Regions from separate parts of the Homo sapiens genome. Here region 2 is linked to region 1. Evidence: fine-mapped expression QTL. A gene starts in region 1. The other region holds a variant in brackets. All regions are shown on one strand. Distances are between the middles of the regions.

Region 1 (5,000 bases):
AAGTTCCCAAGTTCAGTTTGAGAAGTGAAGGGCCGCTAGGTGTAGGGGAGTCTGGAATGGGAACGTTAGGGAAATGCCTCCCCGAGGCGCATTCTCCTACCCATTCTCCTCTTTCTTCCCCCCCCCCCACTCCCCTTCCTCTTCCTGTCCCTATTCGTCTTCCTTCAGCTTTGATTAATATGCATGTCTATGCTCCGTAGTGCGGGCCACCGCCTCCCGTTCGACCCCTGGCACTGGGAGACTGAGCTGTAGCGACCAAAGGCTTGGGATGGGGAGGCTGAGCGCTCAGAGCGCGGAGTCTGAGGACCCCTCGCCGCGCCCTGTATCCCACCCCCCTGGCTGGAGAGAGCGCCTCAGTGACCCAGACTCCGAGATCCCGCTCGGTCTGCGTTGCAGTGGACAGACCCAGGAGCTTGGAGCGCGAAATGAAACGCGCTAAATTGTACCTGTGCGTGGCCGTTCCCGCCGCCGCCGCAGGTCTATCCCGGGGCCGAAGCCGGCGCCCGCCTTCTCGGGGAATTCTCCGGAGGGGGAGTGCGAGGGGAACCACGGTGACTGCCTGCTAGCTCACGGCTGGCGCGCACACGCACACGCCCAACTTTGCCAAGCCGTCGGCGCCCCGCGGGCTCCCCCGCGCCCCCTGCGGCTCAACACGCTCGGAGACCTGTATCTCTCCTGCTCTGAGATAAGGTTCCCTCCACTCTCACACCTTCGCATGTAGGGGAGGAGAGGGCGGAGTGAGGCAGAGAAGGGGGTTAATGCTACTGACTCCCTGGCCAGCCTTTCTCAAACACTCTACGCCCGCAGGGGCGCCCGCGCCAGCCACGCCGCACCAGGTCCCCCAGACCTGCTGGTGACGACAGAGAGAGGAGGAGGAAGAGAAGGCAGGGCGAAGAACCGGGAGCCGGGGAGCCCCGGAGCTCGGGAGCCCGGGAGCCCAGGCGACGGACAGTTCCATCGACTGACCGTCATTATCAGCACTTTTATTACTAAAGGACTGGGTGGGAGGTTGGGGGGTGTGCAACAGAGCTGGCCAGCCCCAATCCACTCTGGAGCGACCCTAAATTAGAGCCACAGAGAAAGATTCTCCACGGATACCTTTTGAGTGGACGTGCTCCAGACACACACCCGGACCCCGTGGTCCCGCCGAAGCTGCAGTGTTGGGGGTATTTTAAACGGTTCTTATTTGGAAGGAGGCGTGATTTCCACGTTCGAGCGTCTTCGCTCCCCACCCCCTCTCGGCACCAGCCAGTGCGCGCCACCACCTGAGCCTGGCGAGAGCCGGGACGCACGCAGTCTTCAGCCTGCTCCTTTAAGCCTCTGGAGAGACTCGGCTCTGAGCGGGTCCGCCCGACACCCGCCCCCTCCCCCCACTCCTGAGAACTCTTTACTTTTTGTTTGGAAAATCGGGGCCATTTCTTTATTTATCTCTGGGTCTTCCCGGAGGAGGGCAGAGAAGGGGAGAGCGAGCTTGGCGGGCCGGACCGGGGGAGGGGAGCGAAGGGAGGGGAGGGGACTGGGTGTAGCCTGGAATTCTCCGTCCTCGTGTTCCTGGGCGGGCGCGCAGAGTCTCCTGGCGATAGCGCCGTCGCCGCTCCCCGCGCCACCCCGTCGTTGGCCTTGGGGGTCGGGTGAGTGGGGTCATGACGAGCCGCGGGGGCTGCCCCGGGCCCCGCCCGCGCTGAGAGGGGACGCGGCCGCGCGGCGCGGAGCCCCCCTGGCGGGGAGGCCGCGGGGGGTGGGGAGGGCGCACGCGGTAGGGCGGAGTGGGGGCGGCGCAGAGGCCGCCAAGCTGGGGGGCTCTCCGGGAGGGCGCGGCCGCGGGCAGGAGGGCGTGTCTCCGGCTCGAGGGGACCCTCCCGAGGCGCGGCGCGGGACTCCCCGATGGTGGTGCCGCGGCTCCGGGAGAGCTCAGGGTCTCGCCGCCGCCGCCGTCGCCGCCGCCGCGGGCGCCGCTGCCGCCGCCGCCGCCGCCGCCGCCGCCGCCGCCCGAACCCGCGCCGAGCGTGCGCCTCGCCCTCCTCCCGCGCCCGCTCTGCTCTAGGATGCTGCGGCAGGTTCTGCACAGGGGCTTGAGGACGTGTTTCTCCCGGCTCGGCCACTTCATTGCCAGTCACCCTGTCTTCTTCGCCTCGGCGCCGGTGCTCATCTCCATCCTGCTCGGCGCCAGCTTCAGCCGCTACCAGGTCGAGGAGAGCGTGGAGCACCTGCTGGCGCCCCAGCACAGCCTGGCCAAGATCGAGCGCAACCTCGTTAACAGCCTCTTCCCGGTCAACCGCTCCAAGCACCGTCTCTACTCGGACCTGCAGACCCCCGGGCGCTACGGCCGGGTCATCGTCACCTCCTTCCAGAAAGCCAACATGCTGGACCAGCATCACACCGACCTGATCTTAAAGGTGAGAGGGGACGGGTGCGGGCAGACTCCGCCAGCGCCGCGGCCGCGGTCGGGCTGGCTCTGCGCTGGGGTCCCGGCTGAGAGCGCCACCTCTCCTAGCCCAGGCAGCTGCCGCAGGGACTCTCCTGCACCGCGCGCCCCAGGGCGGCCGACTGGAGCCTCCCAGCCTCCTGGACAAGGAGCGTCGGGGTCCGGGTCCGGCCCTGCCCGCGTCGCCTCTACCGCCACCCCGCAGCTGCTGCAACAGTTGGGGCGGCGGCGGCCACAGTGCTGTGGTCGGTGCGCTTGTTTTGGTCGCAGTGGGCTTGGGGGTGGGGAGGCTTTGGGGTAACTGGGCCAGCAAGGAGCAGAACGAGAGAAGACATTCTGGAAAGTCCTACTACTTGAGAACAAAATACTATGCTTGGAGGGGATTCCGAGATACCCCTCCCTGTCCTCAGTTTTGTTTCTCCCTTTTTCTGGCCCCCCGGAGTGTTTGGGGAACGGTTGTTGGTGTGGGATGTTGGGAAAGGACAAAAGAATGTGAGGCGGGATGGTGATGAAGATGCCTCCCACCCACCCAGAAAGAAGTGTGGTCTCTGGCGAGGACAGGGGGCTGCCCTGCTGCTCTCTTCTCCGGAGCGAGGTAGCCATCTCTATCTTCTAGGGTATGAAATTATGTTTGTAATTCGCAGTTCCTTCGTCTTTCACAGTAGCTCCTCAAGAAATGCCAAAACTTTGGGAAAAGAGGGAACCGATCAATCCACTTTTATTTGGGTGCATCTGAGCATGGGGGTGAGGGGCAGAGCCCGAAGGGTGAGAACAGAAGCCAGGCTGTGTGACCCCGAGAAGAGCACAGGAAACCGAGCAGCTGGTTAGAGGGTGACACTCGCAGAAACCGGTTGTGCCATCAGCTTGAGGTGGGAATTTGATGTGGAAAGTGAGGTTAATGGTGGTAACTTTCAGGAACTTCCTAAGAAAAGCAGAGGAGTGAGGACTAGAGATGGAAAAGTGGAGACCTCGGGAGAGAAAAGTAAAAATAGGTGAGAATGTTCCATCTGAATCCCTGATGGGGACTGTGGGGCTTGTTTACTTAAGGTTCTCCTTTGGGGAGGGCAGACAAGAACCAGTCCCAGCTGGGACTCTGGTGCAGAGGGATGGAAGGTGATCGTTTTGTGTGAGTCTCTAGTCCAGATCTGGTACTAGAGGCTGGTTAGATTTCTAGTCTACTTATCCCAAGGGGAGTCTGCCGGGAAACCTGGGGAACTCTTTCCTCTTCTTTTCCTCTACAGGTAATAGTTTATCCCTAGAGACAAGCTAATTTTCATTATTTTCCTATGTCCGTTTGTTGACATGTTATCAATTAGCAATTAGTAATGAGGGGAATCTGACTAGGGGCTCAATGGAATTAGGATCTTCCCACATGGAGTGGCTCATGATATTTTTAATGGCACACATCACACATTTACTCATCACAGAACCTTAATAACATTAATCCCGAGATGTTTGTTTTTCTCATGATTAGACTTCCAGCATCAAAGTGGTTTTCTTTTTTCTCTCAATACTTTAGTGACTATATTTTGGGACACAGATAAATACTGCTCCAAAAGCTTTCCCACGAAAACACATAGTAGATTCATCATGGGCATAAGGAAACTGTAATTTAACCAGTTCTGACAGTTGGAAATGCCCCGTCTTTTGATTGATGATCTACTAAATGATATTTCTCTTTTTGTGTTTTTTCAAGGTGACGTTTCCATTGCCTTTCCCCCCCCACCCACAAACCATCACACCACTGTGACAGGCAGTCACCAGTTACAGTCACTCTCAAGGTTAATGAGACATCAACAAGCATTATCAGATCTCTTTTCAACTGGATTACTTCTTCCCTATTTGATTTTGATCAGTTCAGGACAGAAAACAGTGCTATAGGAGAAGGTTGAGACTGGAGAGACGGAGGCTTGGTTTGCCTCCATATCTAAAGGGCAACTTTAAAGGACAATGGTCAAAAATCAGTGGATTGTTTTAAGAACTGGGATGGTTTTTCATCTTCTAGGTGTCTGAGTAAAATCAAAACCAAGCCTAGCAGTGGTCCGAACTTATTTCTAGCTGATGACTCTCTGGTCAAATGAGTTCATACAGCTTATAAAAATCCAGACTTACGGAACCAAGGAAATAACTGTCTTCAATTTTAAATTATATGTTTAATTTTTTCTTTCTGCATCCAGCCCCTACTTTTGGTAGATATGGAGCCAGGGGACAGGAAGATGGACCTTCATTAGTCATGGTAATGTAAAGTGTGGGAGTGAGCACTTTTTTTTTTTTAATTTTTTTCATTTAGAGACATGATGACTTGTCCTTTAGGAAAGGTGTCAGGAGTGAAAGAATCACTGTTATTGTTGTTACTAGTGTTATTCTGATGCTTCGTTACTGGCATCAAGGATAGCATTGACAGTTAACACTACACAACACCCAACAGTCCCTGCCCCCTGCCGGTTTTATGGCGTCACATTTGAAATGAAGTGAAGTGGACAGAGCATGAGCAGGTCTGAGGCTTTTTCATACCCCAGTACAGAACTGAGGAGGTGACTTGTAGGGCTGTGTAGGGTGTTGCTTCAAGCATGAA
Region 2 (5,514 bases), 92 kb after region 1:
GAAGTCAGGTAGCGTGATGCCTCCAGCTTTGCTCTTTTGGCTTAGGATTGACTTGGCAAGGCGGGCTCTTTTTTGGTTCCATATGAACTTTAAAGTAGTTTTTATCCAATTCTGTGAAGAAAGTCATTGGTAGCTTGATGGGGATGGCATTGAATCTATAAATTACCTTGGGCAGTATGGCCATTTTCACAATATTGATTCTTCCCACCCATGAGCATAGAATGTTCTTCCATTTGTTTGTATCCTCTTTTATTTCAGTGAGCAGTGGTTTGTAGTTCTCCTTGAAGAGTCCTTCACATCCCTTCTAAGTTGGATTCCTAGGTATTTTATTCTCCTTGAAGCAATTGTGAATGGGAGTTCACTCATGATTTGGCTCTCTGTTTGTCTGTTATGGCTGTATAAGAATGCTTGTGATTTTTGCACATTGATTTTGTATCCTGAGACTTTGCTGAAGTTGCTTATCAGCTTAGGAGATTTTGGGCTGAGATGATGGGGTTTTCTAGATATACAATCATGTCATCTGTAAACAGGGACAATTTGACTTCCTTTTTTCCTAATTGAATACCCTTTATTTCCTTCTCCTGCCTGATTGCCCTGGCAAGAACTTCCAACACTATGTTGAATAGGAGTGGTGAGAGAGGGCATCCCTGTCTTGTGCCGTTTTCAAAGGGAATGCTTCCAGTTTTTGCCCATTCAGTATGATATTGGCTGTGGGTTTGTCATAGATAACTCTTATTATTTTGAGATATGTCCCATCAATACCTAATTTATTGAGAGTTTTTAGCATGAAGGGTTGTTGAATTTTGTCAACGGCCTTTTCTGCATCTATTGAGATAATCATGTGGTTTTTGTCTTTCGTTCTGTTTATATGCTGGATTACGTTTATTGATTCACATATGTTGAATCAACCTTGCATCCCAGGGATGAAGCCCACTTGTTCATGGTGGATAAGCTTTTTGATGTGTTGCTGGATTCTTTTTGCCAGTATTTTATTGAGGATTTTGCATCAATGTTCATCAAGGATATTGGTCTAAAATTCTCTTTTTCTATTGTCTCTCTGCCAGGCTTTGGTATTAGGATGATGCTGGCCTCATAAAATGAGTTAGGGAGGATTCCCTCTTTTTCTATTGATTGGAATAGTTTCAGAAGGAATGGTACCAGCTCCTCCTTGTACCTATGGTAGAATTCGGCTGTGAATCCATCTGGTCCTGGACTTTTTTTGGTTGCTAAGCTATTACTTATTGCCTCAATTTCAGAGCTTCCCATTGGTCTATTCAGAGATTCAACTTCTTCCTGGTTTAGTCTTGGGAGAGTGTATGTGTCGAAGAATTTATCCATTTCTTCTAGATTTTCTAGTTTATTTGTGTAGAGGTGTTTATAGTATTCTCTGATGGTAGTTTCTATTTCTGTGGGATCGGTGGTGATATCCCCTTTGTCATTTTTTATTGCGTCTATTTGATTCTTCTCTCTTTTCTTCTTTATTAGTCTTGCTAGCGGTCTATCAATTTTGTTGATCTTTTCAAAAAACCAGCTCCTGGATTCATTGATTTTTTGAAGGGGTTTTTGTGTCTCTATTTCCTTCAGTTGTGCTCTGATCTTAGTTATTTCTTGCCTTCTGCTAGCTTTTGAATGTGTTTGCTCTTGCTTCCCTAGTTCTTTTAATTGTGATGTTAGGGTGTCAATTTTAGATCTTTCCTGCTTTCTCTTGTGGGTATTTAGTGCTATAAATTTCCCTCTAAACACTGCTTTGAATGTGTACCAGAGATTCTGGAATGTTGTGTCTTTGTTCTCATTGGTTTCAAAGAACATCTTTATTTCTGCCTTCATTTCGTTAGGTACCCAGTAGTCATTCAGGAGCAGGTTGTCCCATTTCCATGTAGTTGAGTGGTTTTGAGTGAGTTTCTTAATCCTGAGTTCTAGTTTGATTGCACTGTGGTCTCATAGACAGTTTGTTAAAATTTCTATTCTTTTACATTTGCTGAGGAGGGCTTTACTTCTAACGATGTGGTCAATTTTGGAATAGGTATGGTGTGGTGCTGAAAAGAATGTATATACTGTTGATTTGGGGTGGAGAGTTCTGTAGATGTCTATTAGGTCTGCTTGGTGCAGAGCTGAGTTCAATTCCTGGATATCCTTGTTAACTTTCTGTCTTGTTGATCTGTCTAATGTTGACACTGGGGTGTTAAAAGTCTCCCATTATTATTGTGTTGGAGTCTAAGTCTCTTTGTAGGTCACTAAGGACTTGCTTTATGAATCTGCGTGCTCCTGTATTGGGTGCATATATATTTAGGATAGTTAGTTCTTCTTGTTGAATTGATCCCTTTACCATTATGTAATGGCCTTCTTTGTCTCTTTTGATCTTTGCTGGTTTAAACTCTGTTTTATCCAAGATGAGGATTGCAACCCGTGCCTTTATTTGTTTTCCATTTGCTTGGTAGATCTTCCTCCATCCCTTTATTTTGAGCCTATGTGTGTCTCTGCACGTGAAATGGGTTTCCTGAATACAGCACACTGATGTGTCTTGACTCTTTATCCAATATGAGAGTCTGTGCCTTTTAATTGGAGCATTTAACCCATTTACATTTAAGGTTAGTATTGTTATGTGTGAATTTGATCCTGTCATTATGATGTTAGCTGGTTATTTTGCTCATTAGTTGATGCTATTTCTTCCTAGCTTTGATGGTCTTTACCATTTGGTATGTTTTTGCAGTGGCTGGTACCGGTTTTTCCTTTCCATGTTTAGTTCTTCCTTCAGGAGCTCTTTTAGGGCAGGCCTGGTGGTGACAAAATCTCTCAGCATTTGCTTGTCTGTAAAGGATTTTATTTCTCCTTCACTCATGAAGCTTAGTTTGGCTGGAGATGAAATTCTGGGTTGAAAATTCTTGTCTTTACGAATGTTGAATATTGGTCCCCACTCTCTTCTGGCTTGTAGAGTTTCTGCCGAGAGATCCGCTGATAGTCTGATGGGCTTCCCTTTGTGGGTAACCTGACCTTTCTCTCTGGCTGCCCATAACATTTTTTCCTTCATTTCAACTTTGGTGAATCTGACAATTATGTGTCTTAGAGCTGCTCTTCTCGAGGAGTATCTTTGTGGCATTCTCTGTATATCCTGAATTTGAATGTTGGCCTGCCTTGCTAGATTGGGGAAGTTCTCCTGGATAATATCCTGCAGAGTGTTTTCCAACTTGGTTCCATTCTCCCCGACACTTTCAGGTACACCAATTAGACGTTGATTTGGTCTTTTCACATAGTCCCATACTTCTTGGAGGCTTTGTTCATTTCTTCTTATTCT[T/A]TTTTCTCTAAACGTCCCTTCATGCTTCATTTCATTCATTTCGTCTTCCATCGCTGATACCCTTTCTTCCATTTGATCACATCGGTTAATGAGGCTTGTGCATTCATCACGTAGTTCTTGTGCCATGGTTTTCAGTTCCATCAGGTCCTTTAAGGACTTCTCTGCATTGGTTATTCTAGTTAGCCATTTGTCTAATTTTTTTTCAAAGTTTTTAACTTCTTTGCCATTAGTTCGAACTTCCTCCTTTAGCTCGGAGTAGTTTGATCTTCTGAAGCCTTCCTCTCTCATCTCGTCAAAGTCATTCTCCATCCAGCTTTGTTCTGTTGCTGGTGAGGAGATGTGTTGCTTTGGAGGATGAGAGGTGCTCTGATTTTTAGAGTTTCCGTTTTTTCTGCTCCGTTTTTTCCCAATGTTTGTGGTTTTATCTGCCTTTGGTCTTTGATGCTGGTGACGTACAGATGGGTTTTTGGTGTGGATGTCCTTTCTGTTAGTTTTCCTTCTAACAGTCAGGACCCTCACCTGCAGGTCTGTTGGAGTTTACTGGAGGTCCACTCCAGACCCTGTTTGCCTGGGTATCAGCAGCAGTGGCTGCAGAACAGCGGATATTGGTGAACCACAAATGCTGCTGCCTGATCATTCCTCTGGAAGTTTTGTCTCAGAGGGGTACCCGGCTGTGTGAGGTGTCAGTCTGCCCCTACTGGGGGATGCCTCCCATTTAGGCTACTCGGGAGTCAGGGACCCACTTGAGGAGGCAGTCTGCCCGTTCTCAGATCTCAAGCTGCATGCTGGGAGAACCACTACTCTCTTCAAAGCTGTCAGACAGGGACATTTAAGTCTGTCTTAATTTAAGGTTATTGCTGTCTTTTGTTTGTATGTGCCCTGCCCCCAGAGGTGGAGTCTACAGAGGCAGGCAGGCCTCCTTAAGCTGTGGTGGGCTCCAGCCAGTTCGAGCTTCCTGGCCACTTTGTTTACCTACTCAAGCCTGAGCAATGGCAGGCACCCATCCCCCAGCCTCGCTGCCGCCTAGCAGTTTGATCTCAGACTGCTGTGCTAGCAATGAGCGAGGCTCCGTTGGCGTAGGACCTCCAAGCCAGGTGTGGGATATCATCTCCTCATGTGCCATTTGTTTAGCCCGTTGGAAGAGCGCAGTATTAGGGTGGGAGTGACCCGATTTACCAGGTGCCGTCTGTCACCCCTTTATTTGACTAGGAAAGGGAATTCCCTGACCCCTTGTGCTTCCCGGGTGAGGCGATGCCTCGCCCTACTTCGGCTAACACACGGTGCACTGCACCCACTGTCCTGCACCCACTGTCAGGCACTCCCCAGTGAGATGAACCCGGTGCCTCCATTGGAAATGCAGAAATCACCCGTCTGCTGCATCGCTCACGCGGGGAGCTGTAGACTGGAGCTGTTCCTATTCGGCCATCTTGGCTCCACCTCCCTTAAAATTCTTTATCTGGGGATTTTATGAATTTCTTTTTGATTGAGATCTGTTGCTGGAGAATTATTGTCTTCCTTGGGAAGTGTCATATGTCCTTGCTTTTTCATGTTTTCTGTGTACTTAGATTTATATCTGTGCATCTGTTGTAATAGTCACTTCTTCCTGTTTTTTTAGATTGCTTTCATAGAGGAAGACTTTTTTCTGAAGATCTATATATGTTGTTGGTTAGGTAGGGCATTTTGGCTTTTATTTTGGGTGCATGCAGTAGTGTGATTTCCGTATGATTTATTCAGCTGTAAACATTGTCAATGGTATCTGTGATTTCTTCAGTGGCTTAGTGTGTTCTTATTAGTGGAGGCTATGGTGAAGTTTTACTAGGGAGTAGGATGCCAGGAGGGCCAGTGTTTGGGCACCAGCGGTGGCAGCAGTAGGCCGAGTGTGCCTGTCTTTGGCCTCCAACATGACTTACACTGGTACCAATGTTAGGGGGCCTAGATGATTCAATTCTTGGGCTTTCAGATGGCTTTTTTCAATCTGGTAGTGGCCAGTGGTAAGTCTGGCATGTGGATAGGTTCCCAGGTCCTTGGGCAGCGAATATGATATGGGTGATGGCAGTAGCAATGGTGGAGCAACCTACTGAAACCCAAGCAGTCCATGCTAGTCCTGGTGGTGGCTATGACAAGTTGGGTGTCCATAACATATTAGTTATGGCCACTGGTGGTGTGTGTAGGTGGGTGCCAGCTGTGGTAGTATTGGTAGGTTGTGTCAGCCTGACCTCAGA

Direction of the effects. Alleles are on the strand shown, and positions count from the first base shown. SD is a standard deviation of normalised expression in the study named.
With allele A in place of T in region 2, the expression in sun-exposed skin of the gene that starts at base 2,019 in region 1 is higher (small effect, 0.17 SD a copy in GTEx).

The links. PIP is the estimated chance that this variant, and not a neighbour inherited with it, causes the effect. A credible set is the group of variants that fine-mapping cannot tell apart.
Region 2: its variant is the best candidate, but not a certain one, in a credible set for the expression of PTCHD1 in sun-exposed skin (GTEx, PIP 0.51).

The regions. Positions count from the first base shown.
Region 1 is chrX:23,332,831-23,337,830 of GRCh38, forward strand. PTCHD1 (patched domain containing 1) reads left to right here and starts at 2,019. Exons shown (of 3, transcript NM_173495.3): 1 at 2,019-2,396. The coding sequence starts at 2,046.
Region 2 is chrX:23,424,713-23,430,226 of GRCh38, forward strand. No RefSeq gene overlaps it. Among named protein-coding and RNA genes, the nearest start is that of PTCHD1, 93 kb to the left of the region's middle. The variant T/A (reference allele first, on the strand shown) is at 3,293.